2 linked regions of the Homo sapiens genome follow. Changing the gene in region 2 together with the main gene of any one other region gives a genetic interaction. Each region holds a gene or a part of one and is shown on either strand. Other genes may lie near its edges.

Region 1 (15,942 bases), about 79 Mb from region 2:
TGTACTACTCTGGTGGGAGGTGTTGACAAGGAAGAGCCTGTGTGGTGGGAGGGGGAGGGGGTACTGGAAACTCTTTGTTCTTTGCTTACTTTTGCCATGAACAAAAATAAAGTATATTAAAAACAAAACAACTTTAAAGGCTACATTCCAAGCACCTGGAAAAACAAAATACCAAATATCATGCAACAGATGATGCTGAGTCCAGGAGGTGTTGCTGAAATAACATGGGCACCATACGCTTGATCTGCACATGTGGGAGAGGGCAAGCTGGGGGAGGTTTGCTTTGCTCTCTGAGACGAGGCCCTCCTGGGAGCTTCAGGGTGGGGGCTGAATGCCCATGCTGCCCCAGTATGTACACACCTGTCACTCCTCCAGCTTCCGCTGTCTTCTTGACTTTCTGCTGGTCATCCCACCGAAGCTCAGAGAACCCATCCACCTCAACGTCAGGGTGCCGGATGGAGTGGCCCACCTTCCAGAAGCAGGAGAAGTGGTACCAGTGTGGGACTTTTCCATCAAACATGGGCGACTAGAAGGAAGAGAAACAGAGGGAAGTAAGTAAGCAGTTAACTTTTGACTTAGACCCACTAGACCTTGACCTTGACCTCGACCCCAGTCCCAGCCCCAGCAGTGGGATAGCACATGAAACTTTTGTTCTCCTATCTGTGAAAGGAGGACAGCCTCCGCTCTCACATGAAGAGCTGCAGCATCCTTCTCACGATCTTCCCCAAGGGTCAGAAGACTGTAGCCCACTGTTCTTGAGCTCATTCTCTTAGGACACCAAACACAGCCACGAGAAAGGTGGCCTTTTACCACTGAGCTCTGCCCCACGTCCCTTTTGACCACACACTGCTACATTTAGTGGTGAGCTGCCTCATGGCCTAGTGAAATGCACAGAAGACACTTGTGCAGAGTCACAATCCTGCAGCATCTGCTGGGAATGGCCAGACAACTGCTCCAGGCTTGCCTGGACTCAAAGGGCCTGTGTGCCCCAGAAAAGGGCTCTTTAAGTGCCTCTGCAGTTAAGAATAACAAGGAACAAGTCCCAGATAATGAGCAAAGCAGAGAAAGTGTGTCAGAAAAAAGTGTCAAGCTTGCAGCAGCCACACAGATGGGAGTGGAATGAATGGAGGTCTTTGAGGCAACTGTGACAGCGGATGGTTCGGGGCAGCATGCCTAGAGCTGGAGTCAGCTGCTCACTGGCCTTCTGGGGCGCAGTTTCCCAGGCGTAGGACCTGAGAAGTCTGGCCACAGGGAACACAGTTCCCCTCTCCAGGTGGTTTGCTTCCCACTAGGCCTTTCATTGTGACAGGGTCAGGTTCTGCTCCCAGGCCTCGAGCACTGTCTGGCTTTGTTTTTGAGACCGAGTCTTGCACTGAGTGCAGTGGTGCGATCTCAGCTCACTGCAACCTCTGTCTCCTGGGTTCAAGCGATTCTCCTGCCTCGGCCTCCTGAGTAGCTGGGACTACAGGCACGTGCCACCCATGCCTGGCTAATTTTTGTATTGTTAGTAGCAATGGGGCTTCACCATGTTGGCCAGGCTGGTCTCGAACTTCTGACCTCGTGACCCGCCCGCCTCGGCTTCCCGAAGTGCTGGGATTACAGGCATGAACCACTGCACCCAGTCCTGGCTTTACAGAGTGGACGGTGACAGCGATTGGGAAGAAGGGGAAGACACAGTATGTAGTGTGTGTCCCTGCTCCTTTCATAAGCCATCCTGTGTAATCCCACAATCTGCCTCTGGGTGGGAACCAGCCCTTTCATTCACAGATGGAGACAGTGGGGCTGGAAATCCTTGCCTGGGGGGTTGGGAGTCACAGAGGCAGCAAATGAATGATTTGACACTATGATTCCTCCCACCACACTCCACTGCCCGGCAGGAAGAGCTACTTAAAAATACACCAACTGTGATCTGACTAAAGTAAGGGAAGTCCCAAACATCTGCTTTTATAGAACATAAAGCTAAATGTCACACAGATGCAATAAGACTATTAAAACAGCATTAAAAGTAAATGTGCTGAATTTTTAGGATGGAGTTGCGGGGACAGGGAAAATACTCTGGAAAAGCAATGATAAGGTACCCCACTATCTCTCTCCACTGTGAGTGGCCTCTTTCTGGATGTGATGTATTAAAATGCACAGCTAAGACTATGGCAGCACAAGGACTCCTCAACATCAGCTTTCCCCTGGGTCTGGAATGCTCTCCAGCCCTGTTCAGAGCACTCCCTCAGATCTCCCAATGCTCCTTCCACAGCTCCCCTCACTAAGAACTATGCATTTGGTGATTATTTCATAAGGGCCTATCTTGCTATTCTCTAGCAACATGTCACAGAGGGCACGCAGTGTTTGCTTAGGGCTCCAAGTCAGATGGAACAAAAAAGGAAGGATGGGGAAATTCCTGCTGTAGAAGAGACAACAAATGGCATTTCTGAGAGCATACTCATGTTCCAACTCTCAAACGTTCCACCAGATCTCAATTAGGCTGCTGATACAGATCCCTAAGCATCTGGCTATCATGGAATATTTGCAATGGCCTCGACCTGGCTCTGCCTGCTTGTCTACCCCTTGTCTACCCTTCCTGTGCAATGTTCCAGTTACCCTTGTATAAAGAGCACAGGTAATGGCTATGGCACTTCTTCCTGGCTCTGCCAGGGGCCCCAGACCTGCTGCCCTTTGGTCTGGGTGCTGTCTCCCCCAACCACCGGCACAGTGCTGGACACCCTGGAGGTGCTGCCCAATGGTGCAATCACAGCACAAGCTTAGAGGACAAGAGCCTCAGCAGAAGCACCCCTGACCAAAGCAATGCTTTGCCCTAAACTCAGGACTGAGAATGATGTGGCAGAAAGGCACCAAACCAAGGTCACAAGACTATCGACTCCATTTGTTAGCTGCACAGCTGAGGCAAGGCACAGAATCTTTGGCTGTGCACCCAAGCAAAAACTGAGCACCTAACATACCAGGGTCCTCACCCAACCAGCAGCTGGTGAACTGGGTTCCCTTCTGTGCAGAACAGGCCATGCTACCTGTCCACCTAGGCCACAGAGAGAATGAACTGACCTCACTGCATGCCTCCGGGTGCTCAAACCCTCCCAGGACAGAGCAACTCAAAGGTCTACCGCCATCCTCCTCCCACCAAAATGCTGGAGGGCCCAGCTCATCCCTCCCAAGATGCCCCAGGCATGAGGGCTAAAGTGTCAGGTATCAGATACTCAGAGAACAATACTCCCATGTAAATGTAAAAGAAGGTATTTAAATTCAAGCAAGTGAAAAGGCTTCTTTCTTTTTGGCCTTCACCAGCTCAGTCTACCAGACCAACTTTAAATTCTGAATTAAAACTCTGAATCCACCCTTAATCACCATTACATAAAAATCACAGTTACTTTTAATAATAAAGAGTTTCTTTCACTATCAAGTATACCAAAGGAAAGCCCAGAATGTTGTTATTACTATTTTTTTTTTCAGACAGGGTCTGGGTCTGGGTCTGGGTCTGTCGCCCAGGCTGGAGTGCAGTGGCACTATCTCAGCTCACTGCAACCTCCACCTCCCAGGCTCAAGCAATCTTCCAGCTTCAGCCTCCGGAGTAGCTGGGACTTAACAGGCACGCACCACCACGACCCGCTAATCATTGCATTTTTTTGTAGAGACAGGTTTCACCATGTTGGCCAGGCTGGTCTCAAACTGCTGAGCTTAAGTAATCTGCCCACCCCAGCCTCCCAAAGTGCTGAGATTACAAGCATGCGCCACCAAGCCCGGCCCCAGAATGCTAAACTTGATCAGGTTCAGTTTCCTCCATCCGGCCTCCCCCACAGCTAAGCCTCCTCTAACTTCCTCCACAGCGGTGTTGTTCTAGCCTCAACACAGTCTGGACTTGGGTTTTGTTTGTCTTTCCACCAGAACACGGTACTCTGCCCACCTGTTAAGGCGCCTGGATGTCCCTTTCTCAGAATAACATTTAAAAATGCGTAATAAAAAGGCTCGCAAATGGCCAGTCACGGTGGCTCATGCCTGTAACCCTAGCACTTTGTGGGGCCGAGGTGCATGGATCGCTTGAGCTCAGGAGTTTGAGACCAGCCTGGGCAACATAGTGAGACCCCATCTCAAAAAACAAAACAAACAAAAAGGCTCGAAAAGGAAACACTGAGATAATTATCAAAACATTTGAAAGGTAATTTGGGTACAGTAACCCGTGAGCTTTTAAGCATTAAATAACAAGATCTAGTACAGCCTCTAATAACTGTGATTTTTGTAGCAATGAGAGTAAATTATATTTTGAAAAACTTCCAACTGTAAAGTGATATGAAAATATCTGTAATTATCACTGGTGAAAAAAAAATAGGGACTGCTAATATGCCTTTGCTTTGCTGCTTACATTTATGATTAGAGGAAATAATTTTATCTAGAGGTTAGTGGAGATGGAGATATCAATTTTTTCTTATCTAAACTCATGGACCTCTTGCCTTCTACCTACCATCCCACAGACCCTGGGTTAAGAGCTCCTGCACCAGGAGTGAGAACTTCATAACAGGCTGCCTTGTATATTCAAAGTAAGTTCTAGGTTCCTTAGTGGGCAACAAGGCTCTTCAAATTGTAGGCCCTGTCTACTTCCCTATTCTCATCTTTCTGCTCCACTTCTGTGAATTAACGACTCCTAATCAAGCTTCCACCCTTAGCTGGGTCATCTCGGACTCCTAGGCACACAATGCCTAGAGCACAGCTCCATCAGGTGGCATCCATCCTCTCTTACGGTAACGTTTGTTTACCAGTCATTTCCCGTTTAACCAAACTGGAAATTCCCAAAGGTGGATTCTGTGTCCTTAAAACCTAACAGAGTGCTTAGAACTTAAAAAATGCCTACCAAATAAGCACTGTGTGCCACGTACTGACTTAGGTATGCCCCGAGGACACCAAGATGACAGGCATATTGTGAAATAAGATAACGGAAGTACACCTGGCACTTGGGTATCCACTCGGTAAATGTCGCCCTCCCTTGTACTAAGTACTGAAAATCCACTGAGGGATATCTGGTCATTCCTAAAACACATTACAGCTCATGGAAGGGAGGAAAATCAAGCTACCTTGACCATGAGCACTAAGCTTGGGTAATATGTTGGAAGCGAGGAGGAACAGGGCAGATGAGAACCAGAATTATTAATACAAAGGTAGACATCGGCAAACTGGAAGCTGGAGGCAGGAGCCCCTGGGAAATGACAGGGGCCTTCAAGCCCACCACCTCACAGAAGGCTCAGGAAACCTCAGAAGGGGATTCAATCTATCAAAAAGCCCACATGAGAAACCCCCCTGGAGCCACTCTTACTCAAACCAGACAGCTGCAAATGCACCAAGAGAACGCGTCTGTGAATCTGGAAAATTTGGGGAAAATGTTACTTTAAAGCACAAATTAGGCTCAAAGTGAATGTACTGTACAGAAATGACACCTTTCTGCATAGTTCTGCCTAATTAAAATAAAAAATGAGAGTGAGCGTTTAAATGACGTGTTGAAATGACTGCCAAAAATAGGTTTAACAAAAAAAAAAAAAACCCACATGTCAGTCGCCACCATCCATGTAGAACAAAAACCCTCCAGAACAAGATAGGTCAAAATCAGATTAGCTTAAAGAGACCATGTACAATTCCCCCCCAACCCCTGAGGCGAACGGCAGTAATAAAACACCGCCACCCAGAAAGGAGAAGAGAAGAGGCTCCTCGTTTTCACAAAGCGAAAGGCAACACCAGCTGCAGACTTTATTTCCCGGGCTTTTCCTGCAACATCAGCAAAACCTTCCGGAAGGGTCGGCCGGGCCGCTCGGGAGGAGGGGCGGCCGCGGCCCCATAGGCCCCAAGTGCCGCTCCGAGGGCCCGGGCCCGCTCGCTCCCTGGGCCCGCCCTCCCCCAGCCTTCCCGGACACAGTTAACCCGGGGCGCCGCGTCCCCGCCCCGCCGCCCGCACAGCGGCCCGCACCTGCACCATGATGGCCATCCGGAGCGAGTCCTTGGGGATGCTCTCGCTGCATTTCTTGCAAGAGGCGCGCCCGCTCTTGGCGTACTCGACTCGATAGAGCTTATCCGAAGACTCCGCCATCCTCCCCTAGCTGCCGCCAAAGCTCCGGAAGCCCGACGCCACGACCTAGAAACACGCTGCCGCCTCGCCGCCTCGCGTGCGCTCACCCAGCCGCAGGCGCCTGAGCGGCCAGAGCCGCCACCGAACACGCCGCACCGGCCACCGCCGTTCCCTGATAGATTGCTGATGCCTGGCCGCGGGAACGCCCACGGAACCCGCGTCCACGGGGCGGGGCCGGCGGCGCGCGCGCCCCCTGCCGGCCGGGGGGCGGAGTTTCCCGGGCGCCTGCCGGGTGGAGCTCTGCGGGCCGCTGCCCTGGGGGCCGAGGCGGGGCTTGGGCTGAGCTAGTAGCTCTTTGGAGGACCCGGCGCCACCCCTTTGATTGTTCTGTCCCAGGAAGTCTTACTTGATTTCACAACTAATTTTACCCCCAACCCCTCCCCCTTTTATTTTTGAGACTGAGTCTCACCGCGCTGGAGTGCAGTGCCGCCATCATGGCTCACTGCAGTCTGGAACTCCTGAGCCCAGCGATCCTCCCACCTCAGCCTCCCGAGTAGCTGGGACTACAGGCGCTCACCACAACTGGCTAATTAAAAAAAAATTTTTTTTAGGGACAGGGTCTCGCCAAGTTGGCTAGACTGGTCTCAAACTCCTGCTACAAGTGATCTTCACGCCTCAGCCTCCCGAAGTGCTGGGATCAGGGGCATGAGCTACCACGCCGGCCCCAAACTCTTAAGTGTGTCCTCTCTCCCCTGAGGGCAGCTGGGTCCGGGAAGCGCAGGCCCCCGCCTCGGGAATATAGTTGATTGGCCCGAGGTGGACCCTGCAGTGCTAGGTCCACCCTCCTGGCTTGGACGGGCGTTCTAACCTGCCGTCCACAGACCGTCGGGACAAAATACCAACTGAAACCTAGCATTTCCTTTATTATGAATTTGACTACAAATACCAGGAGTATTAGCAGTACCTGTGACTTTGTGGGCAATAGTCATCACAGACGTTTTCATGTTACTTTACAGTTGTTGGTGATAACTCGAAATATTATTAAGCTCATCACTACTCGAAATTGTGGTAATGACTGCACCTGTTGCTATCAGATATTTTGTGTGTGTGTGTGTGTGTGTGTGTAAAGAAAGAGATGGGGAATCTCTCCATGTTGCCCAGGCTGGTCTTGAACCCCTGGCCTCAAGCAATCCTCCCACCTCGACTTCCCAAATTGCTGGGATTACAGGCATGAGCCACTGCACCTGGCCTAGATCTTGTTGTTTAATATAGAACTATACTTCAAAATATAGTTTATTAAAATTGGTTTCTTTTCTAATCCTATGCATTTTTTTTTTTCATTTCAAAGATTGTAACATGAGTGTGCTTTATTTGAAAATATTCAATTCTGGTATAGAGGATAAGAAAAATAAGCAGATGAATAAAACTCATAAAAAGTGTTAACCATAGAGAAGAAGCTAGTGGCTTAAGAGACAAGGATGTTGAGTAAGCAAGAAGGTTGTGAGACATAGGCCGAATCCTAAAAGTTAGTAACCAGTTAGATACGTTGAAGGTAGGCTGGGCACAGTGGCTCATGCCTATAATCCTAGCACTTTGGGAGGCTGAGGTGGCCGGATCCCTTGAGCCCAGGAGTTCAAGACCAGCCTGGACAACATGGCAAAACCTTGTCTCTACAAAAATTAGCTGGGGGTGGTGGCAGGTGCCTGTAGTCCCATCTACTCGGGAGGCTGAAGTGGGAGGATCACCTGAGCCCTGAAGGTTGAGGCTGTGGTGAGCCATGATAGTGCCACTGGACTCTAGCCTGGGTGACAGTGTGACCCTGTCTCAAAAAAAAAAAAAAAAGATATTTTGAAGGTAAACAGAATAAGTGGAAAATATGATGGAACAAATAAAAGTTTTACTTAGAGAATGACCAAGTCAAAAGGCATGATCATGCCATCTCTGGGTTGACAACTATATCATCCCTAAATGGCCACTCATTGGTGATAAGATTATGGTCCCATCCTGGCACCCATATGCTCTGCCCCAAAAATGCAGCTAAAGTTCAGGTCTGTTCAGCAGGCTGATTGGTGAGCTGCAGCTGTGGCTGAGTGTGCTTGCACTTGTGTCTCTCTGATAGTGCAGTGTGAGTTGCTCCAGGTACCCTCTGTTGAGCCGCCTTGAGCATCCTCAACTCTGTCAGTGGGACAGGCTGATGCGGCAGAGAGAGGGAAAACATATCAATATTAGCCAGGTGCAGTGGCTCATGCCTGTAATCCCAGCGCTTTGGGAATCTGAGGCGGGTGGATCACCTAAGGTCAGGAGTTCAAAACCAGCCTGGTCAACATGGTGAAACCCCGTCTCTACTAAGAATACAAAAATTAGCTGGGCATTGTGGTGCGTGCCTGTAATCCCAGCTACTCGGGAGGCTGAGGCATGAGAATCGCTTGAACCCAGGAGGTGGAAGTTGCAGTGAGCCGAGATCACGCCATTGCACTCCAGCCTGGGCAACATAGTGAGACAGTCTCAAAAAAAGAAAAGAAGAGAAAAGGGGAGGGGAGGGGAGGATGGGAGGGGAGGGGAGGATGGGAGAGGAGGGGAGGAGGGGAGGGGAGGGGAGGGGGAAGGGGGGAGGGGTGGGAGGGGAGGGGAGGGGAGGATTCCCTAATTCTAGGTTCTGGTGGTGTGGTCCATCTGCCTCGCCTGTACCCTATCCTGTGTATGTTATGCACCCCATCGAGTTCTTGCTGTAAGTGGTTTTAAACTGATTCAATAAACCCTGCAATTCAAGCATCATAATTTGGTCTGTGAGGCTTTCTGTTTTGTAACTTGTGGGATAGTTTGCCTGATAATGTACCTAGAAGCTACTATTGCATTAAGGTAGGTTCCTCCACAATATTTATTCTGGAAAGGGCTTCATGGACCACCAAAGGGGTCCTAGGCACACACACAAAAGGTTAAGAATTCCTGCCCTAGAACCTAAGGAAAGCCAACTATCACCTACTGCCTTCTCAATATTTCAGTTTGGATGGCTTATATGCATCTCCATTTATGTCCAAAACTACCCTAGTGCTTCCCATCTCAGGAAATGGCCCACCATTCTTTGCATTACTTAGGCCAAATGCTTTGTAGTCAACTTGACTCTTCTCTTTTGTCCCATGTTCAATCCATCCCCGAATTCTAACTTCCTGACTTTGATCCTTTCTCATGGCCCAGCTGCCATCCTTTTTGGTGGCTCTGTATCCCTCACCAGAATGTAAGCTCCATGAGGGCAGGAGCTTGTGTCTGTTTTGTTGCAATAGCCTCAGTGCCTGGAACAGTGTCAGGCACTCACCAATATTTGTTGAATGAATGACTGAATCCCACAGTTGGCCCTCCCTTCGCACAGGCCAACAGTTTAATTAATAATGTTACTTCACATTTGTATATAACTAACTTATACTGTGCCTTAAATTTGAAATTCCCATGCTGATTTATAACCCCTATAGTATACCAGGCAAAGTTGGTGGCTATACAAAATACCACCAGGACAGGGTTGTCTGAAGAATTACTTGATAATTCTTGTTAATAATACAAAAACAGAAAAAGAACGCCATCATGCAGTTTACAAATAAATCTTAGGTGGCTTTACATTTCAATTTTTTTCTTTAAAAGGAATGAGCTGTGTCCAGGTAGGTTAAATGCTTTATAGACAAGAGAAAAAAAAAAAAGCTGCCATAGAACCACCTTATTTGTCATTATCATCGACTTCATTTTTTATTTTCCTTACCTTCTCTGTCTTTCTCCGCTTTGTTTTTTTTTCTTGCCTTTTTCGGCCTTGACAGCATCATTTTTGCCACATCAGCTTTCCTTTGGCTGGATATGCAGCATTCTGCTCTTGGTACTTTTCCTTCAGTTGAGAAGCCTTCTTTTTGGGCTGCTTGCCATCTGCAGCATGGTCACTCATGTCCCTCCCAGGTTCTTGGCATCACTGCCAGTGGACAGACCGGGATCTCCTTTGATTTGAGGGCAGTACTCAGAACACAAAGTGAAAGCCCAAAGGAGGCCTTTCGGGTGCATTAGAATCTCTGAATTTCTGTTTTACTTCTCTTTTAGGAGGGATATCAGTTTTCATTTCTTTTTCATAAAGGGCCTTGAATACTTTTGGCCATGCCTCCAATTTCCTTCTCTTTAGCAAGTAAGGTTTTCCACCTTTCTGAACATGTTAATGAACATTCTGAGAAGATGAATGAAGTGTCTGGTTGCTTCTCCTGTATCCTGGCAAGCGTGCGCAGAATGCCCGTGATGACATTTTGTCCCTGGGATCATTGGGCTCTCCTTCGCCCATGTTTAGTTATTTTTGCTCAGTGAGGCACAGAATCACTCAGTGTCCACTTGGCCCTCACTTACCTTGGCAGTGTCTCTAGGTAAGGAGTTCTAGATCAGCCTGGACAACATAGCACGACCCTGTCTCCACACACACAAAAAAGTAAATAAACTCACAACAAACATTTGGTGTAAGGTATGGGTCCAGCTACATTCTTCTGCATGTGGAGATCCACCATCTGTGGAAGAGACTGTCCTTTTCCCACTGAATGATCTTGGCACCCTTGTTGAAATCATTTAACCATATATGTTGAGGGTTTATTTTTGGGCTCTCTATTCTGTTCCATTGGTCTATATGTTTGTCTTTATTCCAACGCCACATCATAGTAAGTTTTGAAATCAGAAAGTGTGAGACCTCCAACTTTATCTTTATTTTACAAAGTTGATTTGTCTTGGTTTGGTTTTATATTTTGTCAAGATTGATCAGGAGTGGAAAGAAGAGATGGTGGCTCGTGCCTGTAATCCCAGCACTTTGGGAGGCCAAGGCAGGCGGATCACAAGGTCAGGAGTTTGAGACCAGCCTGACTAACACGGTGAAACCCTGTCTCTACTAAAAATACAAAACAATTAGCTGGGCATGGTGGTGCATGCCTATAATCCCAGCTACTCAGGAGGCTGAGGCAGGAGAATCCCTTGATCTTGGGAGGCAGAGGTTGCAGTGAGCCGAGATTGCACCACTGCACTCTAGCCTGGTCGACAGACCAAGACTGTCTCAAAAAGAAAAAAAAGAAAGAAGAGAGACACACAATTCTGACTGCTGGTGTATGTGTGTGTGGTGGTGGGGTGGGGGGGATGTCTAAAGCCCCACACCAGGGATTTCCTGTTAAGCAGGTGAGGCAGAAGTTGCACAGAGGAGCTGGGCTCCCATTTCACACCTAGAGACAAGGGAGATGGGAGTGCAGGCTAGCCTATGTCTGGGAAGAAGGCAGGGACAGATTTCCGTGGACAACTAGCAGTGTCTGCCACAGTTGTATCTTACATTATTCTTCTTCCTCAGGACTAAATGGCCCTGCAATCCAAAAAATCAGATCTTCAGATGTGGGGACACTTTTTTTTTTTCTATCATTGATTTGACTACTTGCTTTGCTTCATTTTTAGAAATACCCTCCCAATTTCATAATGTTCTGTTTATCTCTTTAACTTTTGGCGAGTTAATGAGAAGCTGTCTCAGCTTAATTTCTTGGGTCACTGACAAAAGCTTCTGCTGTGTCCATCTTTCATTAGATTAACAAATTTTAGCCATTACATGTTTTACTTTCCAGTATCTTGAGCTGATGTTTAATGAATGTAATATAGTCTAGAAGTTATTGCTCTCTTAATGATATGTCTTTAATTTTTAGGTTTTGTCAGTTCTGCTGAGTTTGGTGTAGTAAGACCCTTCCATAATGTCGTGTTCCAAAACACAAATGGTAAGATGTGGGGTTGTGTAATTGTGAGGTTAGTGAGAAGATTGCTCTGAGCCTCCAACTATAGCTGGTTCTCAGGATGTGGCTGTGGGTCCAAATTCATCCTGGTCATGGCTGTGGTTTGATACTCCCGGGTAGCAATTTTCCACCCCAGCTTACATATTGATGGGTTCAATTTGGGGTCTTGTGGCTTCCTGGGACTTATGGAGAGCAGCAGCGTTTTCAGGAGTCTCCCCTGTTTGTGGCCTGATCCAGGGAGAGTAGATCTGGAGAATCTTTGGGACAAGAAGGACCGTACCACTTCCTCCCACTTCTGAAGAGGGTCACGTGTTATTTCCCTACCTGGTTGTGCTCTCTTCCATGCTCTCCTCCCTTATCCCCTTATCGCATGACACGATTTATCTTGCTCCTATTTGAAAATGAGGTGTGGGGGAAGAAGGACGCCATCACCAGTCACCGTAACACTGAATCCGAGCTCACTGCGTTTATTGTAGGTGTCTTTCACAGTGTTGACGGTCTTCAACAATTCAGTGGTTCTTGCTTATCTGCTCATTTGTGTATTTGAGACGATCTTGATACCTATCTCCTGCTTTCTTTCCACAGCTACGTCTGGTGACTTTGTGTGTGGGGAGGTGAGGGTGGGTGTGTGCCCCTGCGATGGGGGTGCCAGTGGGTTGTCTCTGGCTGTGGGAGTTCCATCTTCCCCAGGGGTTGGTAGCAGCCTGGAGCCACAGAGCCTCCCTCATCCCCACACTGGCTGTGCCCACACCACCTTGACAGATGCCAGGACCCCCTCCTCCTTGCCTGGGTTTGCAGTTTCCTTACTCGCTCCTGGCTCGGCAGCAGGCCCCTCCTCGGCTGCTATCTGGGAGTCTCCCACATGCACCTAATCCTGTGTGCTGTCCATCCTGCAGGGCTTCCTGATATATAGGTCCACTGCAGATTGTGAGGCCTGTGATTCCATCCTTGGGCCTCACAGGGCCTAACATGAATTCCCAGGCACTAACTAGATATTTCCCCACCCAGCAGGAAAGGCTCCCCGCCAGCCGGTTCCCCAGTCAACTGGATCAGCTGTACCCTACCTACCTAGACCCCAACTTAATGGATTTCACCTTCCTGCCAGCTGGGCAAAAGATTCAAACAAGCCAATTGCATCCTCATGTGGGATCCAAGGGTCACCCCACCATCTTGTCACTACAAAGCCTGCCTCCCACAGTCCCTGCTGGCTCACTCTGCTCCCCACGGCAGCCCCTATGTGGCCCTGCAGGGTGGGCGGTGTCCTTCTCCCCCAGACTCTGAGCAATAAGCTGCTGCCAGCCTCTTCTGTCCAGTGTCAGGTACCATGTCCTTGACCATCACATGCTATTGAGGGCGGGAGATCCCTCCTCCACCAATGGGGTGAATAGGAAGTGATCCAAAAGCACTGATGGCACACTGCTGTATGCTTTTCCTGTTCTATTAGGGATACATTAGTTTACTTTAAGATACTTCTTCTCTGACTTCATGGGATTTGGGACATGAGGGGTGTTAAATGACATGTGCTCAGTCTATCTTCCCATAAATTACTTGGTTTTAAAAAAAAAATTAGATTGTTTCGGTTGTTTCCTTTTTTTTCTTCTTTTTCTGTTAAAAAACGTGAAAAATAGGCCGGGCACAGTGACTCACGCCTGTAATCCCAGCACTTTGGGAGGCCGAGGTGGGAAGATCACCTGAGATCAGGAGTTGGAGACCAGCCTGGCCAACATGGTAAAACCCCGTCTCTACTAAAAATACAAAAATTAGCCAGACGTAGTGGCCCACCCCTGTATTCCCAACTACTCTAGAGGCTGAGGCAGGAGAATTGCTTGAACCTGGGAGGTGGAGGTTGCAGTGAGCTGAGATCACACCACTGCACTCCAGCCTGGGTGACAGAGCGAGACTCTGTCTCACAAAAAAAAAAAAAAAAGTGAAAAATAATGCTGTCATTTTCACCCTTCTACATTTGTCTTTGTATACCTTTACTATGATTTCTTTGAGATGGATTCCTAGAAGCTGGGTTGCTGATGAGGTGTGTACATTTAAAATCTTTAGAGATTCTGGCAAATTGCCCTTTGGAAACGCTGTACCCGTTTATACATCCACCAGCAACACACCTGGGATTATAGGTGTGAGACTAACAATATCCACAGCTGTGAACATATGTGGAAATGCACAATCCTTTGAATTTTGAGAAGTAAATGGTTTTCTGCTTTTATTTTATTGTATTTCATTTTATTTAGACAGAGTCTCACTCTGTTGCCCAGGCTGAAGTGCAGCGGTGTGATCTCGGCTCACTGCAACGTCCACCTCCCACATACAAGCAATTCTCCTGCCTCAGCCTCCTGAGTAGCTGGAATTACAGGTGCGCGCCACTACGCCCGGCCTGTTTTATTTTTTTTGAGACAGGTTCTCACTTTGTCGCTCAGCCTGGAGTGCAGTGGTGCCATGGTGGCTCACTGCAGCCTTGACCTTGAGGACTCAAGCGATCCTCCCGCCTCAGCCCCCCAAATAGCTGGGACTAATTTTTGTATTTTTTGTAGAGATGAGACTTCGCCATGTTGCCCAGCTGGTCTGGAACTCCTTGACTCAAGTGATCCGCCCACCTTGGCCTCTAAAAGTGCTGCTGATATTACAGGCATGAGCCACTGTGTCTGGCCGATTTTCTAATTTTATTTGTAATGATGTTTTTGAAGAATAACATACATACAGTGACATGTGTGTACCTGGAGTGTACAGTTTGATGAATTTTTTACTGAGGGATTCACCTCTATGACCACAAGCCAGGTCAGAGTGTAGAACACTCCCAGCTCTTCCCCAGCCACAGTTCTGACTTCTATTGTTATAGTTTTGCTTTTGAGCTTTTTTATAAGTGGAATTATATACTATGTGATCTTTTGTACTTGACTGCTTTTACTCAACATTATGAATGTGAGGGTCACCCATATGGTTTCGTGTGGGTGCACTTTGTTCATTCTCATTGCTATGTACTATTTCATTGGGTGACCAGTCATCAGTTTACTTTCCATTCTTTTGCTGATGGAGGTTTGGGCTGTTTTTATTTTTTGGGGGCCATTTCAAGTTTTTTTGCTATCCACTTGAAGGTACATACCTTTTGGTTCACCTTCATATCAGTTTCGGTTAGATGTTTATTTGGGAGTGGGATTACCAAGTCATAGGGTTTGCATATGTTTAGCTTTGGTAGATTCTGCCAAAGAGTTTTCCAAGATGGTTGTATCAAGTCACACCTTCAAGAGCAATATATGAGAGTTCTAGTTGTTCCACAGTTGATACTTAATATTGTTGTATTATCAATTATTTATTTATTTAGAGACAAGGTCTCAGTCTGTCACCTAGGCTGAATGCAGTAGTGCAGTCATAGCTCACTGCAGCCTCAAATTCCTGGGTTCAAGTGATTCTCCTGCCCCAGGCTCCTGAGGAGCTGGGACTACAGGTGCACACTATCATACCCAGCTAGTTTTTTTTTTTTACTCTAGAGATGAGGTCTTACTCTGTTGCCTGGGTTGGTCTCAATCTTCTGGCCTCAGGCAATCCTCCCGTCTTGGCCTCCCAAAGCAGTGGGATTACAGGTGTGAGCCACCATGCCTGGGCTGTATTATCAGTTTTTAATGTGTGTTTTCTTTTTTGAAATGTTTTTTAGACAAACATCCTCAGGGTGTGGTTTTTGGATGGGGGGAATTTGCAGCGTCTCCTTCCCTCAATTATGTTTTTTTTGGGAAGGACAGTGTCTTACTCTGCCCCCCAGGCTAGAGTGCAGTGGCGTGATCTCAGCTCACTGCAACCTCAGCCTCCTGGGCTCAAGTGATCCTCCCACCTTAGCCTCCAGAGTAGTTGGGACTACAGGCTCGTGCCACCACGCTTGGCTAATTTTTTCGCCATGTTGGCCAGGTAGACCTTCTGGACTCAAGCAATCCCCCCTCCTTGGCCTCCCGAAGTTCTGGAATTACAGGCATAAGCCACCATAATATTTTTATTTATGTAGATTTTGGTTGGCAATAAGGTTGAATATCTTTTTATGTTTCATTGGCTGTTGCAATTTCTTCTGCTGTGAATTTCCTGTATCACCTTGTGCCCATTAAAAATAATTCCCAATGTTGTTTG
Region 2 (16,296 bases):
AAAGGGAAGATAGATATACAGGGAAGTAATGTTTATATAAAGGGAAGTAATGTTTCCATACTTTACTCAAATAAGTAAAATGACAATATCAGTAGTCTGTGATTTTATACACACATACGTACATTTACATACAATACCCGTAACGACCACTAAAAAGCTACACAAAGAGATAAACTAAAAAACACTGTAAATAAACAAAAATAAAATTCTAAAAAATGTTCAAATAATTCACAGGAAGGCAAGAAAAAGAAACAGAGATAAACTAAAAACAATAAAAATAAGATGGCAGAGTTAAGCTCAAACATAGTAATAATTACTTGAAATATAAATGGTGTAAGTATACCAATTAAAAGACAAAGACTTGGCTGGGCACAGTGGCTCACACCTGTAATCCCAGCACTTTGGGAGGCTGAGGCGGGAGGATCTCCTGAGGTAGGGAGTTCAAGACCAGCCTGACCAACATGGAGAAACCCCGTCTCTATTAAAAATACAAAATTAGCCGGGTATGGTGGCTCATGCCTGTAATCCCAGCTACTCAGGAAGCTGAGGTGGGAGAATCACTTGAACCTGGGAGGCAGGAGGTTGCGGTGAGCTGAGATCGTGCCATTGCACTCCAGCCTGGGCAACAAGAGCGAAACTCCGTCTCAAAGAAAAAAAAAATAAGACTTCCAGAGTGGATTTTAAACATAACCCAATTATAAATTGTCTACAAGAAATTCAACCCAAAAATAATTAAATAAGTGAAAAGTAAAAGGAAGAAGTGGTAGACAAAATAGTGGCCCTCACAAAGATGTCCAAGCCCTGATCCTGGCATCAGTGAGTATGTGACCTTATATGGCAAAAGGCATTCTGAACACATAATCAAGGTTAAGGGGCTTGAGATGGAAGAGTACCCTGAATTATCCAGGTGGGCCTGGATAACGCAATGGACATACAATCTAATCACATGCATCATTCGGAGAAACTTTAACAGCTGTGGTTAGAGAGGAAGCTGGCTAGAGAAGGATCAAAGAGATGCAATGTTTCTGGCTTTGAAGTTGGAGGAAAGGGGCCAGGAGTCAAGTGATGTGGGCAGCCTCTGGATGCTGGGAAATATATTCTCCCCTAGAGCCTCCAGAAAGGAATGCAGCTCTGCTGATACCCAAAGACAGGAGAATACACATTGTTTTCAAGTGCCATGGACCATACAACATATTCAGGGCCTGTCTTAGTCCATTTAGTGTTGCTATGGAATACTCGAGGTTGGATAATTTAAAAATAAAAAGAGGTTTATTTGGCTCATGGTTCTACAGATTGTACAAGAAGCATGGCACCAACATCTGCTTCAGGTGAGGGCTTCAGACTGTTTCCACTAATGGCAGAAGGGGAAGTGGGGGTGGCATGTACAGAGATCACATGGTGAGAGAGGAAGAAAGGCGTGGGGGATGCCAGGCTCTTTTTAACAACCAGCTTTCTGGAAGCTAGTAAGTAAGAAGTCAGTCACTCTCTCTGCTCCCTGCTCAGGGAGAGCATTAATCTATTCAGGAAGGATTTGCCCCCATGACCTAAACACCTTTCATTAGGCCCCACCTCCAACACTGGGGATCAAATTTCAACATGATATTTGGTGGGGACAGATAATCCATATCCAAACTAAAGCAGGGCCAGAAAACCCCAACACATTTAAAAGAACTGAAATTGTACAGAGTATGTTCTCTGACCACAATGTAATAAAATTAGAATTCATGGACAGAAACATTAGAGGCAAATCTCTCAACACTTGGAAACTAGACAACACACTTCTTTCTAAACAGTCCATCAAAAGAGGAAGTCTCCAGGGAAATAAATACACTGAACTAAATAAAAATGAAAATACAACATATCAAAATTTGTGCAACAAAAATTAACTCAAAGTAGATCATGGACTTAAATAAGAAGCTGTAAAACTTTTAGGAAAAAACTCTTTAGGATCTGGGAATAGCCAATGAGTTCTTATATTTGACACCAAACAACAAGAAAACTATCCATAAGAGAAAAAATTGATAAACTGATAAATTTTAGCCAAAATTTAAAACTTTTGTAAGACATATATCTGAGAAAATATTAGTATCTAGATTATATAAAGACTAGAGTATGTCAAAACTCAACAGTGAAAAAACAACAACAACAAAGGATCCTATTTTAAAATGGGCAAAAGACAGAAAAAGACATTTTATCAAAGAGGTTACATATTTCATTAGCCAATAGGGAAATTCATATCTAAGCCACAATGAGATAGCATTTCACATACATTAGAATAGTCAATATAAAAAAGTAGCAATATCAAATGCTGGCAAGGATGCAAAGAATCCAAACTCAGTCATACATTGCTGGTGGGAATGTAAAATAGTACAGCTACTCTGGAAACAGTTTGGCAGCTTCTTTAAAAACTAAACATGCAACTACCATATGACCCACTCACAGCACTCCTAGGCATTTATTACAGAGAAATGAAGATTTATTTTCATACAAAATCTGTATACAAATGTTTACAATATCTTTCTTTTCTTTTTTGGCAATAGCCACAAACTATGAACAACTCAGATATCCTTCAGTGGGTGAGTGGTGAAACAAACTGTGGTATACTGTGCTGTGGAGTACTACTCAGCAATAAAAAGAAACTACTGATACGTGCAACGACCTGGATGAATCTCCAGAGAATTACTCTGAGTGAAAAAAAGCCAGTCCCCAAAGGCTACATATTGTATGATTTTACTCACCTATCATTTTCAAAGTGACAAAATTATAGAAATGGAGAACAGATTAGTGGTTGCCAGGGGTTAAGGAATTGGTGAGGTAGAAGGGAGGTGAGTGTAGCTATCAAAGTGCAAGTTGAGGGATCCTTGTGGAGATGGAAAATGTTCTGGATCTTGACTGTACCAATGTCAATATCCTGTTGTGATAGTGTACCATCATTGCAAGTGTACACAATGTGATAATGTGCCACATTGCAAGATATGACCACGAGGGGAAACTGGGTAAAGGTTACATGGGATCCTTCCGTATTATTTCTTAAAACTGGTGACTCATGCCTGTAGTCCCAGCTACTCAGAAGGCTGAGGTGGGAGGATCACTGAAGCCCAGGTCGAGGCTGCAATGGGCCACTGCACTCCAGCCTGGGCAACAGAGTGAGACCTTATCTCAAAAAAAAAAAAAGTTGAATTTTCAAAAATAATATGTAATTATATCCACAAAGATAACAATACTTAACACTTAGGAGTCAACAGCAAAAACCAGAAATTACCCTTGGTAGGTTAGGCAGAAAGGAATGTAATACAGGGAATTAGATCACCACAAAATTGTCGAAAGGCCTGGAGGAGTAACATCTAGGCTGATCTTCTGGGTACAACTGCTAAATCAAGCACCACAGTATGGACACACCAAGGAAGTATCTACCTCCACGACCTGGAAGCCAGGAACCAACCAGGAGGCCACGGTACTGTCAGCCCCAGGGACCTATCAACGCAGCCACAATCCATGATAACAAAATGAATGCTCTGTACCCTCCCACAGACCCATGAGGTAGTAGCTAAGTGGGAAGCGGAAAATCCAAACCCCTCTGTGTCCTTCCCCTCACTTTCCCCTTCCAAATCTCCCAGTCACGTGCCTGGCTAAAGCCAAGTCACGTTTACAACCAAACTACAGTGGGGTCTGGGAAAGGTAGTCTTTAGCTTTTTAACCTCCAGATGTAGATTCTTTTGCCCTTCTGTCAGGGAGATGACAAGTAGTGAAAAAGCAAGCAAAACAGCAAGAAGTAATAGGTCTGCATATTCCAGAAACAAAAAGGTCCTAAGGTAACTTCATGATCCAAAGATGAATATCCAAATGTCCATCAATATTGGTAACCAAATAAACATTAAATTAAACAATACGATAGCATATTAACTTCTCAAATTAGAAAATACCAGTGTTGCTGAGAGTATAGAGAAATAAGCAAAAATTTTGCATACTCTTTATTCTAGAAATGGTACCTTTCAGGAATTAAACGTCCATACCTATAATAAATATTTGGTTACAAGGATATTTATGTTACTTACAATAGCAAAAAAAAGAACCTAAATACCAAGAAGAGGGACTGTCTAAACTATGGTACATCCATATACTGAAAAACTGTAACCATTAAGAATGATGTTGAAGAAGACTGAATGATAAGGAAAAAAAGTTATGATTTCCCAAAAAAATGTACATGAAACTCCATTTTTCACCTTCCCCCTCCACCAGAAAGTAAAAGAAATTATACAGGATAGAGAACATGTTAACAGTAAGGAGATTATGGAGATTAATATTTATTTTCTTTATGCATAGGCTATTTCCCTGAATGTTTTACTGAAAATACGTACTACTTCTGTAACCAAACGAAAAAAAAGTAGTAAGAATTTTTTTAACCAACTCATGAAGAATAGTTTCTCATAACACTAGTTTATTCTGGTAAACAGAAATAGAAATTACAAGTTATAATATTCAGTAGCCATTCCTTTGACTCTGCTTTTCTATTTTCCTTCTCCACTACCAATTTATCCAAGTTGCCACATTTGCCTACTTAATTCTGAATTTACTCACTCCATTCCATCCACTCAAACTTGCAACCTCTTGTCTCCTCATTTTCACTAAAACACTTGCCCATATGTACGTTTCTCCTGGCATATTATCCACAGCTAAGTATCAACTGGCACACTTTTCTGAGCCCTCTCTCACACAAGTTCTTAAAGAACCATTCCCAACACTTGCAAGGAAATAGGCAAACCCACAAACATAAACTTTCGTTAAGATAAAGTCAAACATAAAAAGACCAGTCTACAAGCTCATACTTAAAACTGGATACATACTCCTTACAGCCACACATTCTTACAGACTCAGGGAATCAAGGAGAGAGGTCTTTCTCTTTCATGTCAGCGTCCTCTCCATTCAACTTCATCTTTCAGTCTTCTAAGCTGAACACAGAATTGCACCTTTTGTTTCATTCCTAGAATGACAAACCTTACTCTTTCGTGGTACTGAGCACTTAAATAAATTAGTTTATACTTTTAAATGCACTCTCACTAGTCTAAAACTCTAGGTAGGAAGGGTCCCTATTTGTTTTGCTCATCTTTGTAGCCAATGCCTAAGAATACGCTCCCAGTAGCATTCAATAAGTAATGAATAAACGACTGTATTATTACTGATGCATGATTCTGTCAATACAGTCAAAGCACACACTACGTTCCCAACTTATAAGTAAGGAAAACGAGGCTGGGGCGGTTCAGCGGCGAGTCAGCGCAGACCCAGGAGGAGAGCGGGGTCTCGGAGCTGCAGGAAGTACGGTCAGCCATGCAGCGGCAGGGCTGGGGGGCATGCAAGGTTCGCGCTTTGCAGACTCTCCGTAAGGGCTAGTGTCAATAAATCGAGTTACGTGCGGTGGTGAGCGGACAAGCTAAGTTGGCATATAGTACGTGGTTCAGTCAGTATTTATGAATGACTCAAGACACAAAAATAGCTTCATAAACAGTGCTTTGCTTGAGTTTGTCCGCTCACTACCGCACGTAACTCGATCCGGAGAATTAATCCGTGGCGAATTCTCCAATAACTGCGCGCGCACAGTAAACGGAGAAGCTGAAGCTGGGAGATGAGTTGATCGTTTTACAGAAGCAACCAATAAACTCCCCAGGCCGGGACCCAAACCCACCGGAACAGCAACTGGAAACCTACATCCTTGGTGCACCAGGCCGTCCAACTCTTCAGCGGAGGCCTGCAGGTGGCGCTGATCTCACCACGTTTCCCCTCCACAGGCCAGGGGCCAGGCCTGGCTACCGGGCCCGCGACCTCATTCATCTGGCGTCCGCCGGCCCCGCGCGCCGCGCAGGCGGGGGCCGTGGCCACCAAGCCCGGGCGCAGTTTCTCTCCGCCCACGGCAGGAGCGAAGGAAGGCCCTGGCGCGAGCGGGTAAACTGCCCACCGGGCGGCCCACCCGCTGCGCCCCCGGCCCGCAAGAGGCAGTCCCAATAGGTTGGCCCGCCTGGCCGAAGTCCGCCCGGAGCCCGCTCACCTGTCAGCCCCCACTGCCGTAAGTCCTGCTCCTGCACCCGCGCCGCCTCGGCTCGGCCCTCAGTATGAAGCCGCAGTAAGAAGCCAGGGGCTTGGCCCCCGCGGCTAGTAGCGCCCGCGCGCTCCATCGGGCCGGTAGAGGCCCCGCCCCGCGCGGCCAAGCGCGCACCTCCCTCCCAACTTCCCAACGCGCGGGGGCGCGCGACTGCGCGCTGGGGCCCACCTACGAGCGAGGCGCCGCCAGAGGGCGCGTCCTGCCAAGATATCCGGAGCGGAGCTGGTGCAGTCACCCTTCCGGACAGGCAGTTCTTGCAGTGCGGAGCGTGGAAGGGCTGCCCAGTTCTCACCAGTCGTGCTTCTGAAGCGCTAGGCGTCTGATCACGCACAGGACGTCTGATTGCCTGAACTGCCCGTCAAGGAGGTGGCATGTGTTCATCATTCATTTATTATTTAATCAACATCGACTATCATGTGTCAGACACTCCGCTGGGCCCTGGGGGTTCTAGAAGTAAGACTTGTTCCGTGCCCTCCAGTGATTCACGATAAGATCAAACTGTTCTTGTTCGGTTTACCTAGTGATAAATTGATTTAGTCCCTGAAATCCCTTTCTTACTGCCTGTGACCTGTAGGCCAAAATTGGGAACCTCTGAATAGTAGTAAATTAAAATCACCAAAGACGTCATTGTGGCAGTGGGTATCTCAAGTGCATTATGGGGAGCAGATTGAGGCAATGTGTTCAGTTAGGGGTCACCGTGACTCAGCATCAGCTTTGAGTGGATTTATGATGTAGTATACCACTAATATAAATATGATAATAACAAAATAGCTGCATTTATTGATGAAGTTCTGGGTGGTGTCCTAAGGGCTTTAAGTATATTTTCTTATTTAACCTTCACAATAACCAATAATTAGGTGTTATAATTGTCCCCACATTGTAAATGAAGATATTGGGACTTGTAATGGTAATTGGCAGTACTGGAACAGGAACGATATTATTCTCTGGCTAATGTCATTAGAATAGTATTCTCATTTAGGTTAATCTTGGTGCTTCCTTCTTCAGTAAACTCATGTTAAATTTGTACCCTCCATTCTCATCTTCCTCTAAAATAAAAGGGAGAAATTTGTTCTGAGCTAGAAAAGGGATGACTTCAGATTGGTTTATTCATAAAAACTCAAGCAAAGCACTGTTTTATGAAGCTATTTTTGTGTCTTGAGTCATTCATAAATACTGACTTTCATGCGCGTCCGTGTGAAGAGACCACCAAACAGGCTTTGTGTGAGCAATAAAGCTGTTTATTTCACCTGGGTGCAGGTGGGCTGAGTCCGAAAAGAGTCAGCGAAGGGAGATAGGGGTGGGGTCGTTTTATAAGATTTGGGTAGGTAAAGGAAAATTACAGTCAAAGGGGGTTTGTTCTGTGGCGGGCAGGAGTGAGAGGTCACAAGGTGCTCGGTAGGGGAGCTTTTTGAGCCAGGATGAACCAGGAAAAGGACTTTCACAAGGTAATGTCATTACTTAAGGCAAAGACGGGCCATTTAAACTTCTTTTGTGGTGGAATGTCATCAGTTAAGGCAGGAACCAGCCATCTGGATGTGTACGTGCAGGTCACAGGGGATATGATGGCTTAGCTTGGGCTCAGAGGCCTGACACTGACTGAATTACATACTATGTGCCAAGCACTCTATGGTACTGAAGATAGAGGCCACTTATCTCCTGGATCTTACATTTTAAAAGGAGGAGACAAGCAATAAATAAAAATCAGGTAGTGAAGGGGTGGCCTGCCCCTCCACACTTGTGGGTATTTCTCGTCGGGTGGAATGAGAGACTTAAGAAAAAAAAGAGACACAGAGACAAAGTATAGAGAAAGAAAAGTGGGCCCAGGGAACCGGCGCTCAGCATACAGAGGACCTGCGCTGGCACCAGCCTCAGTTCCCTTAGTATTTATTGATCATTATCGGGCATTTCTCAGAGAGTGGGATGTGGCAGGACAATAGGGTAATAGTGGAGAGACGGTCAGCATGAAAACATGTGAACAAATGTCTCTGCATCATAAACAAGGTAAAGAAAAAAGTCCTGTGCTTTTGATGTGCATACACATAAACATCTCAATGCCTTAAAGAGCAGTATTGCTGCCCACATGTCCCACCTCCAGGCCTAAGGTGGTTTTCTCCTATCTCAGTCAATGGAATATACAATCGGGTTTTACACCGAGACATTCCATTGCCCAGGGATGAGCAGGAGACAGATGCCTTCCTCTTATCTCAACTGCAAAGAGGCCTTCCTTTCTCTTTTACTAATCCTCCTCAGCACAGACCCTTTATGGGTGTCAGGCTGGGGGACGGTCAGGTCTTTCCCTTCCCACAAGGCCATATTTCAGGCTATCACATGGGGAGAAACCTTGGACAATAACTGGCTTTCCTAGGCAGAGGTCCCTGCGGCCTTCCGCAGTGTATTGTGTCTCTGGGTACTTGAGATTAGGGAGTGGACTCTTAACAAGCATGCTGCCTTCAAGCATTTGTTTAACAAAGCACATCCTGCACAGCCCTGAATCCATTTAACCTTGAGTGGACACAGCCCATGTTTCAGGGAGCACAGGGTTGGGGGTAGGGTTACAGATTAACAGCATCTCAAGGCAGAAGAATTTTTCTTAGAACAGACCAAAATGGAGTCTCTTATTTCTACTTCTTTCTACACAGACACAGTAGCAGTCTGAGCTCTCTTTCTTTTCCCCACAAGGTAGGATTAATGCTAAGACAAAAGTAAAACACAATCGCATAATGGGGCAATAGTAATTTTGTACAGCAGCTTTCCTGCTTGGGTGTTTTCTCAAAACAAACCTGAAGAGAGATTTATATCCTTTGGTGGCTTCTCCAGAGGGACCTCTGTCCTATGTGGCTGCTCATGAGTGGTTTTTGCATCTTGGTCTCCATGTATGACTTATTTCCTCTCCTCTAGATTCTACCAGTAGACTTATCTGCTAAAGCAGCCATATCAAGCACTTGCCACTTAAATATAAGCCTGTTTATTATTTTTAACTTAAAGTACATTTGTTGTAACAGAATACCAGATGATAGAGTCCTAGCTATAAGCCAGGTAGACTGTTGGTATACTAAGTCTGGTACCTAAAATACAGCTAAGAAAGGTAGCTGAGAGACTCCAGGTCTGCCAGTGAGGTGACACATAGAAAAGTTTTGCTCTGAATACTGTATGAAGAGATCTGTAGATGATCAGGATGGAAGGAAGGAGGCAGTTTGGAAACTATTGCAGTAGTCTGGGCAAGAGTTGATAGTTTTGGGGCCAGCATGGTGATAGTGGAGTGGTGAGTAGTGGTCTGCTACTAGATCTATTGAAAAGATAGAGCCTATAGGATTCACTGATTGAGCATCTGGGAGAAATGAAGAAGCAAAGGTTGGGTTCAGGGATGTGGCCCGAGCAACTGGTGGGATGTGTTGGATTTGTACAAACAGTGCTGGGCACATAGTGTTGTACTTGAGCGAGTTAGAGAGAACGCCACACTTTGAGACGAATTAAGAGTCTGTTTATTTAGCCAGCGGCTGAGAGATGGCTAACGCTCAAAGTTCTCTTGGCCCTGAAGAAGGGGCTAGATTTTCTTTTATACTTTGGTTTAGAAAGGGGAGGGGGGGTCTAGTTAAAACAATTTTCCAGAAGTAAAGTAGGCAGAAAGTTAAAAGGATAAATGATTACCAGAAAGTAAACAGTTCTAGGTGCAGGGGCTTTAAGACTCTTACAAACTGATAGACGTGGGGCTTTGGGCGTTATCAATTGGACGAATTCCTGGGAACTGCGGATATTGCTCGCCACAGTATTTTATCAGTTAATTGAATTCTTGGATGTTCTGGGAGTCAGCTTGCACAAGTTATGTCTTTGAGGAAGGGGCTGCCAGTGAAAGAGCCAAGATGAAGTCTGTCTGGCTCTCTTAGCTAAGGGACAGTCAATTCAGGTGGAAACAAGGCTAGGTGATTAAAGGAAAGAGAGAATCTAAAAACAGGGTTAGTAAAAACAAGGTTAGGCATTACAATAGTATGCCCTCAATAAATATTGTTGAATGTTTGAATGAGGTGCCTGTGGAACAATTTTAAAATCTAGGGCATATGATTGTTATAACTTTGAAGTACAGAGAGTGCATTTCACAGATGGGCAAACCAAGGCACAGAAAGTTTAGGAAGCTGGTCCAGTGTTTTCTGTGAGTCGTGATTAACTCCCAGAATAAAATTTAGCCTCAACTCATTTTTCATTCATTGTTCAGGTTATACAATCATGCTGTTTTTGTTAATTGTTTTATTCCTCCACAGAAAGGATATGTCCTTTGGCAACAGCAACTCCATAAGATTAATGCTAACCAACTAACACTGTCAGTGGGACTTAGCATGTGCAGACATTACCAAAACAAGCATGGATTAAGCACAGATTAAGAAACAAATTATGTTTGCTGTTTGTTGTATCCTTGCTCTGTTAGGTAACATCAGGGCACCAGTTAGAAGCACCTAGTGAGTCAGATACGGAAATTGGATAAAAGCTGTGACCAAAGTAAACATTTATTCAGACCTCTTGAGTAAATGAACTTGGAACTTTGAGCTTAGGTTAGAATTAGGTCCGTGCCCATGGGTGGAAGATTTTTGTGCTGGGATGAAAAACACTTAACTTGGGTTTTCTTTCTTGCAAGAAATGAAAAACTGTGTTTTGACTTTTGATGCCAGTATACCTCTTTGTCATGAAATAACATGTAATAAATTTAGAACCCAGAAAGCCAGGGAAAATATACCACAGTATAGAAGTATAGAAAAAAAGTAAGTTGGTTTCACAGGACTCTTGCCCAGTCACCTCAGAGAATTGCCACTCCCTTTTACTATCAAAGGTAAGGTTGTAAAATAGTAATATTATCAAGTTAATCTTTGAGAACATAGTTTAGAAATTGTAGGCATCAAAATTTGCCCACGGTCTTTTTGCTTGAAAGGACAGTGTTTTCCTTTTTAACTGGATGCCTTTTGACTGTCATGCCATGCCATCACATTGGTCACCCAGAATTTCATTCTTTATGTTCTCCAACCAGCAGTGTAACGTTTATGCAATCTGCCCAGCTAGTCCCTGAAGGCTTTTGAGTTTGCCAAACTGGAAATTTAACTTTTGTGACATATTGATGGCAGTGACGGCCTATCTAGAGCAGCTGCTGTCATGATGCCACTTGCAATGGGGGTGGCACACCAGGGCTGCCAGCTCCATGGAGCTGGGGGAACCAGGAACAGGTGGAGGCCCTGCCTCCTTCTGAGTTGGCAGGGCAGGAGCTTCCTGCTCCCCAGGTACAGCTGTGGCTGCCCAGCTGCAGCTGCAGACCTGGGCATCCCTGTGCTCTTTGGGGCTAAAAGCAGGCAGGAGCCCTACCCTCTCAGGCACAGCTGCAGCTGCCTGAGTCATGTCCACCAACTCGGCCTCCCTGTGCTCTTGGGTTCCTGGAGCAGGCAGGAGCCCCACCCTCCTGGGTGCAGCTATAGCTGCTCAAACCACAGCTGCAGACCTGGGCATCTCTGCACTCTTGGGGGCCCTGTAAGACCTCCCACCCCATTCCTGCAGGCTAAGAAGTGTCTCCTCCCATTGCCTGGCCTCTTTCTGCTCCCAGCACCCACTCCATTCCCAGAGCAAGGTTGGAGCTGAGGCTGGGTGCTATTGCAGCCTGGCCAGGTGTGCACCCACTCCAGGCAGCACTGACACATGGCTTTGGCCCCCTCAGGACTTTGGGTGCCAGCATGGGAGGGAGGCCAAGGGGGTGCTGGGGCAGCTCAGCCTCTGTGCTTGCCTGCAGGTGCCCCTTTGCACAAACAGTTTGGGTGCTGTGAATGCCAGCAGGAGGCAGTCTCCTGGGTGGAAGGGAGCAGGTCACCGGTGAAGACCTACCCTCAAGCTGGGGAGGGCCTGAAGCCTGGAGGCTGGGCTGCTGGTCCCAAAAACCAGAGTGAGAACTTGTGTTTTATCTGGGTGCCTATGGACCAGTTGGCGCACACTTCCTCTCCTCTGAGGCCTGTAAAAGCCCCAGACTCAGCCAGACTTGAGACAGTGGGATAACCAGCCGCAGAGAGGAGCTACCCACCCCAGGGTCTACTCTCTGCTAAGAGCTGAGTTGACAATGATGACCTGCCAGCTGTGGAGAGGAGCTGCTTACTCCAGGGTCTCCTCTCTGTGAGAGCTAAGCAGACATTGGGACAACCAACTGCAGAGAGGAGCTACCCACTCCAGGGTCTCCTCTCTGCTGAGAACTGAACACTCAATGGGACAACCTGCCTGTGGAGAGGAACTATCCAATGTGGGTCTCCTCTGAGCTGTTCTGTCACTCAATAAAGTTTCTCTTCACCTTGCTTACCCTCCACTTGTCAACTTACATCATTCTACTTGGACGCAGGACAAGAACTCAGGACCCGCCAAATGGTGGAGCTAAAAGAGTTGTAACACAAACAGGGCTGAAACATGCCCATTGCTTGCCACATTGTGGGCAACAAGAAGGAGAGAAGAGAGAAGGAGAGAGGAGCTGCAGCCCTTTGGGAAGCCCAGACCTAGGAGCTCACTGAGCCAGGGCTGTGACACCCTCTTTGGGGCTCTTTAGCTCTTGGCATCTCCAAGCTTCCAGGCACCACTGCATTCTCCAGTGCCAGCCATGAAATCTGCTTGTGGCACCCCTGGTCCAGCTGGAGCCTCACAGGGAGTCAGTGCCCATACTGGCACCTGGAGCTGCCTGCCTTGCCACAGCTGGCATGCCTGGCTGTGCATAGTGGCTGGACCTCATATTTGCTCACACACCCCTCTCTGCTCTGCATCTGGCTGGCCCTTGGCTGGCATGGGATCCAGGCTGGTAGCATGAGCCATGTGCAGCCTGCCAGGCTGAATGGACCAAACAAGCCCAATAGGCTTGAGCAAAACTTGTGCAAAAGTACCAATGGCCACAGAGGTTTCTGTCTCACAAAGCAACACCCCAAGAATCCCGTGACAATATTTCCATGTAGGGGACAGGTTGTCTCAATAATATACCATAGGAAGCCAAAATGTTTCTCATGATTCACCCTACTCTAAAATATTTTTAGGCAATGTAAAATTATGACCCTAAGAACTCTCTATGACCTTCTTCTTCCTCTGATTGACAAGAATCCAAAGCCATTTTTTTTACCCTAACCCTATAAAGCCTGGGTTTTAGTTTTGAAAAATGAGCATACCTATTCTGGGTTCTGTTGCACATGTATCTATCCCTGAGGCACAGTTATAACTTTGATGCAAGGGGGTTCCCCACCTCTATCCCCTCAAATTGCTCAAAAATGGCATGTCTAATTAGGCTTCCTAATTAGAGGGTTTTAACAATCAGAGTGCTTCTGAAAGGCCCATAATGCATAGTGAATTATGAGGATAATAGTAGCTATCCTATAATGCTGTTGTAAAAATTAAATGAAAATTTTTTCACAAGAAACTAAATACAAATTTGAATGTCCAAGGTATTACGAAGGACTGAAAATCTTCACTTGGGAATGAGCCTGGGGATCACTCAAGTATCCACATCTCATCAGTGGAGAATTAAGAAATTGGAAGTTATCCCTCATTATTGAGGTTCCATGGTAATCTCATTTGCTTGGGGTGTCTACAGGCATAGTGTTTTCCCCATATGTGTGGCCCACAGATATGGGTCATAAAAGTAAACAGAAATACACACACACATACACACACACACACACACACACACACACACACACAGTGTGGGATATCTACTCCATGGTGGGCTCTAACCAGCTTTGATAGATTGTATTACTGTTCCTAACTATCCACTTTCTCCCCACAAGATGGTTATACATTTATGCCCTTAGTCATGTGACTTGCAGTGCTTCCTAATAGGAAGAACCCCTGTGATTTGCCTTGGACAGTGGAATATGAGTGGATGTGATTTACCCTAGTATATAAGTTGAAGCTTTAAATGTGCTTGCCCAAATTATTCCTACCCTCTGCCATGGAAACTATACAAATGAAATAAGGGCCATGCTGGTTAAAATCTTTCATAATTTTTTCATGTCAGTATAAATTCATCTCATTAAATATAATATGTAATATAGTCCTTCCCCATCTTGATGAACGTTTATGAAGTCATTTCAAATTTTTCACTATTACTCCATAAATATAGACAATTGTTATTTGTCCATTCAAAATAAATTAGTAAAAACATTTTTAAGTTAGAAAACAAAATAATTTTTTACAATTAATGCTGACTAATACTTGAACTCCAACTACATGCCAGGCCACGTGTGGGCACTTTACATGTGTTATAACATCCACAGGTTCTGCGGCTTAGGACATGGATGTCTTTGGGGACGATGTTTTCAGCCTACCATGATGGCTGTGATTTATCTCCTCATCTTTTTTAGATATGCACTTTCTCTTCCTCCTCTCTGGGTAACAAAGTACCTAGCACATAGCAGGCATAGAATGGATGCTGTTGGGGTGATCAGACCCAACACCAGATCCTGGGGGTGACAAAGTCCGGTAGAGTCAAAGGATTGAGAAAACCACAGTTTGAGAAGTAAAGTGGGAGCAGGGGGCCATCACAATTGTGGAGGCTGCGAAGGCTCCGAGCTCTGGGAGCCCACGCTGTTTATTGGTAATCCAACAGAGAATCAGGTGGTGAGAATGTGGGGGTCAAAAGAGCAGGCTCATGATCTACAGCTGTGACGGTTTAGCATTTATTTATTTATTTTTTTTATTGATCATTCTTGGGTGTTTCTCGCAGAGGGGGATTTGGCAGGGTCATAGGACAATAGTAGAGGGAAGGTCAGCAGATAAACAAGTGAACAAAGGTCTCTGGTTTTCCTAGGCAGAGGGCCCTGCCGCCTTCCGCAGTGTTTGTGTCCCTGGGTACTTGAGATTAGGGAGTGGTGATGACTCTTAACGAGCATGCTGCCTTCAAGCTTCTGTTTAACAAAGCACATCTTGCACCGCCCTTAACCCATTTAACCCTGAGTGGACACAGCACATGTTTCAGAGAGCACAGGGTTGGGGGTAAGGTCACAGATCAACAGGATCCCAAGGCAGAAGAATTTTTCTTAGTACAGAACAAAATGAAAAGTCTCCCATGTCTACTTCTTTCTACACAGACACGGCAACCATCCGATTTCTCAATCTTTTCCCCACCTTTCCCCCCTTTCTATTCCACAACCGCCATTGTCATCATGGCCTGTTCTCAATGAGCATGTTGGGTGCACCTCCCAGACGGGGTGGTGGCCGGGCAGAGGGGCTTCTCACTTCCCAGTAGGGGCGGCCGGGCAGAGGCGCCCCTCACCTCCCGGATGGGGCGGCTGGCCGGGCGGGGGGCTGACCCCCCCCACCTCCCTCCCGGACGGGGCGGCTGGCCGGGCGGGGGGGCTGACCCCCCACCTCCCTCCCGGACGGGGCGGCTGGCCGGGCGGGGGGCTGACCCCCCACCTCCCTCCCGGACGGGGCGGCTGGCCTGGCAGGGGCTGATCCCCACCTCCCTCCTGGATGGGGTGGCTGCTGGGCGGAGACGCTCCTCACTTCCCAGACGGGGCGGCTGCCGGGCGGAGGGGCTCCTCACTTCTCAGATGGGGCAGTTGCCAGGCGGAGGGTCTCCTCACTTCTCAGACGGGGCGGCTGGGCAGAGACGTTCTTCACCTCCCAGACGGGGTCGCAGCCGGGCAGAGGCGCTCCTCACATCCCAGATGGGGCGGCGGGGCAGAGGCACTCCCCACATCTCAGACGATGGGCGGCCGGGCAGAGACGCTCCTCACTTCCTAGATGGGATGGCGGCCGGGAAGAGGCGCTCCTCACTTTCCAGACTGGGCAGCCAGGCAGAGGGGCTCCTCATGTCCCAGACGATGGGTGGCCAGGCAGAGATGCTCCTCACTTCCCAGATGGGGTGGCGGCCAGGCAGAGGCTGCACTTTCGGCACTTTGGGAGGCCAAGGCAGGCGGCTGGGAGGTGGAGGTTGTAGCGAGCCGAGATCACGCCACTGCACTCCAGCCTGGGCACCATTGAGCACTGAGTGAACCAGACACCATCTGCAATCCCGGCACCTCCAGAGGCCGAGGCTGGCATATCACTCACGGTTAGGAGCTGGAGACCAGCCCGGCCAACACAGCGAAACCCCATCTCCACCAAAAAAATACGAAAACCAGTCAGGCGTGGCGGCGCGTGCCTGCAATCGCAGGCACTCGGCAGGCTGAGGCAGGAGAATCAGGCAGGGAGGTTGCAGTGAGCCAAGA

What was found.
Region 1: of CHD1L (region 2) and PARP1, a change in one rescues a mutant of the other (synthetic rescue), as found in Homo sapiens cells (one study listed by BioGRID).

What each region holds. Positions count from the first base shown.
Region 1 is NC_000001.11:226,401,854-226,417,795, forward strand, and holds the start of PARP1 (poly [ADP-ribose] polymerase 1), read right to left. Parts: upstream 6,241-15,942; 5' UTR 6,077-6,240; coding exon 5,957-6,076; intron 527-5,956; coding exon 361-526; intron 1-360. UniProt on the Homo sapiens protein: Poly-ADP-ribosyltransferase that mediates poly-ADP-ribosylation of proteins and plays a key role in DNA repair.
Region 2 is NC_000001.11:147,232,575-147,248,870, reverse strand, and holds the start of CHD1L (chromodomain-helicase-DNA-binding protein 1-like), read right to left. Parts: upstream 6,188-16,296; 5' UTR 6,168-6,187; coding exon 6,041-6,167; intron 5,732-6,040; exon of another isoform or gene 5,681-5,731; intron 1-5,680. UniProt on the Homo sapiens protein: ATP-dependent chromatin remodeler that mediates chromatin-remodeling following DNA damage.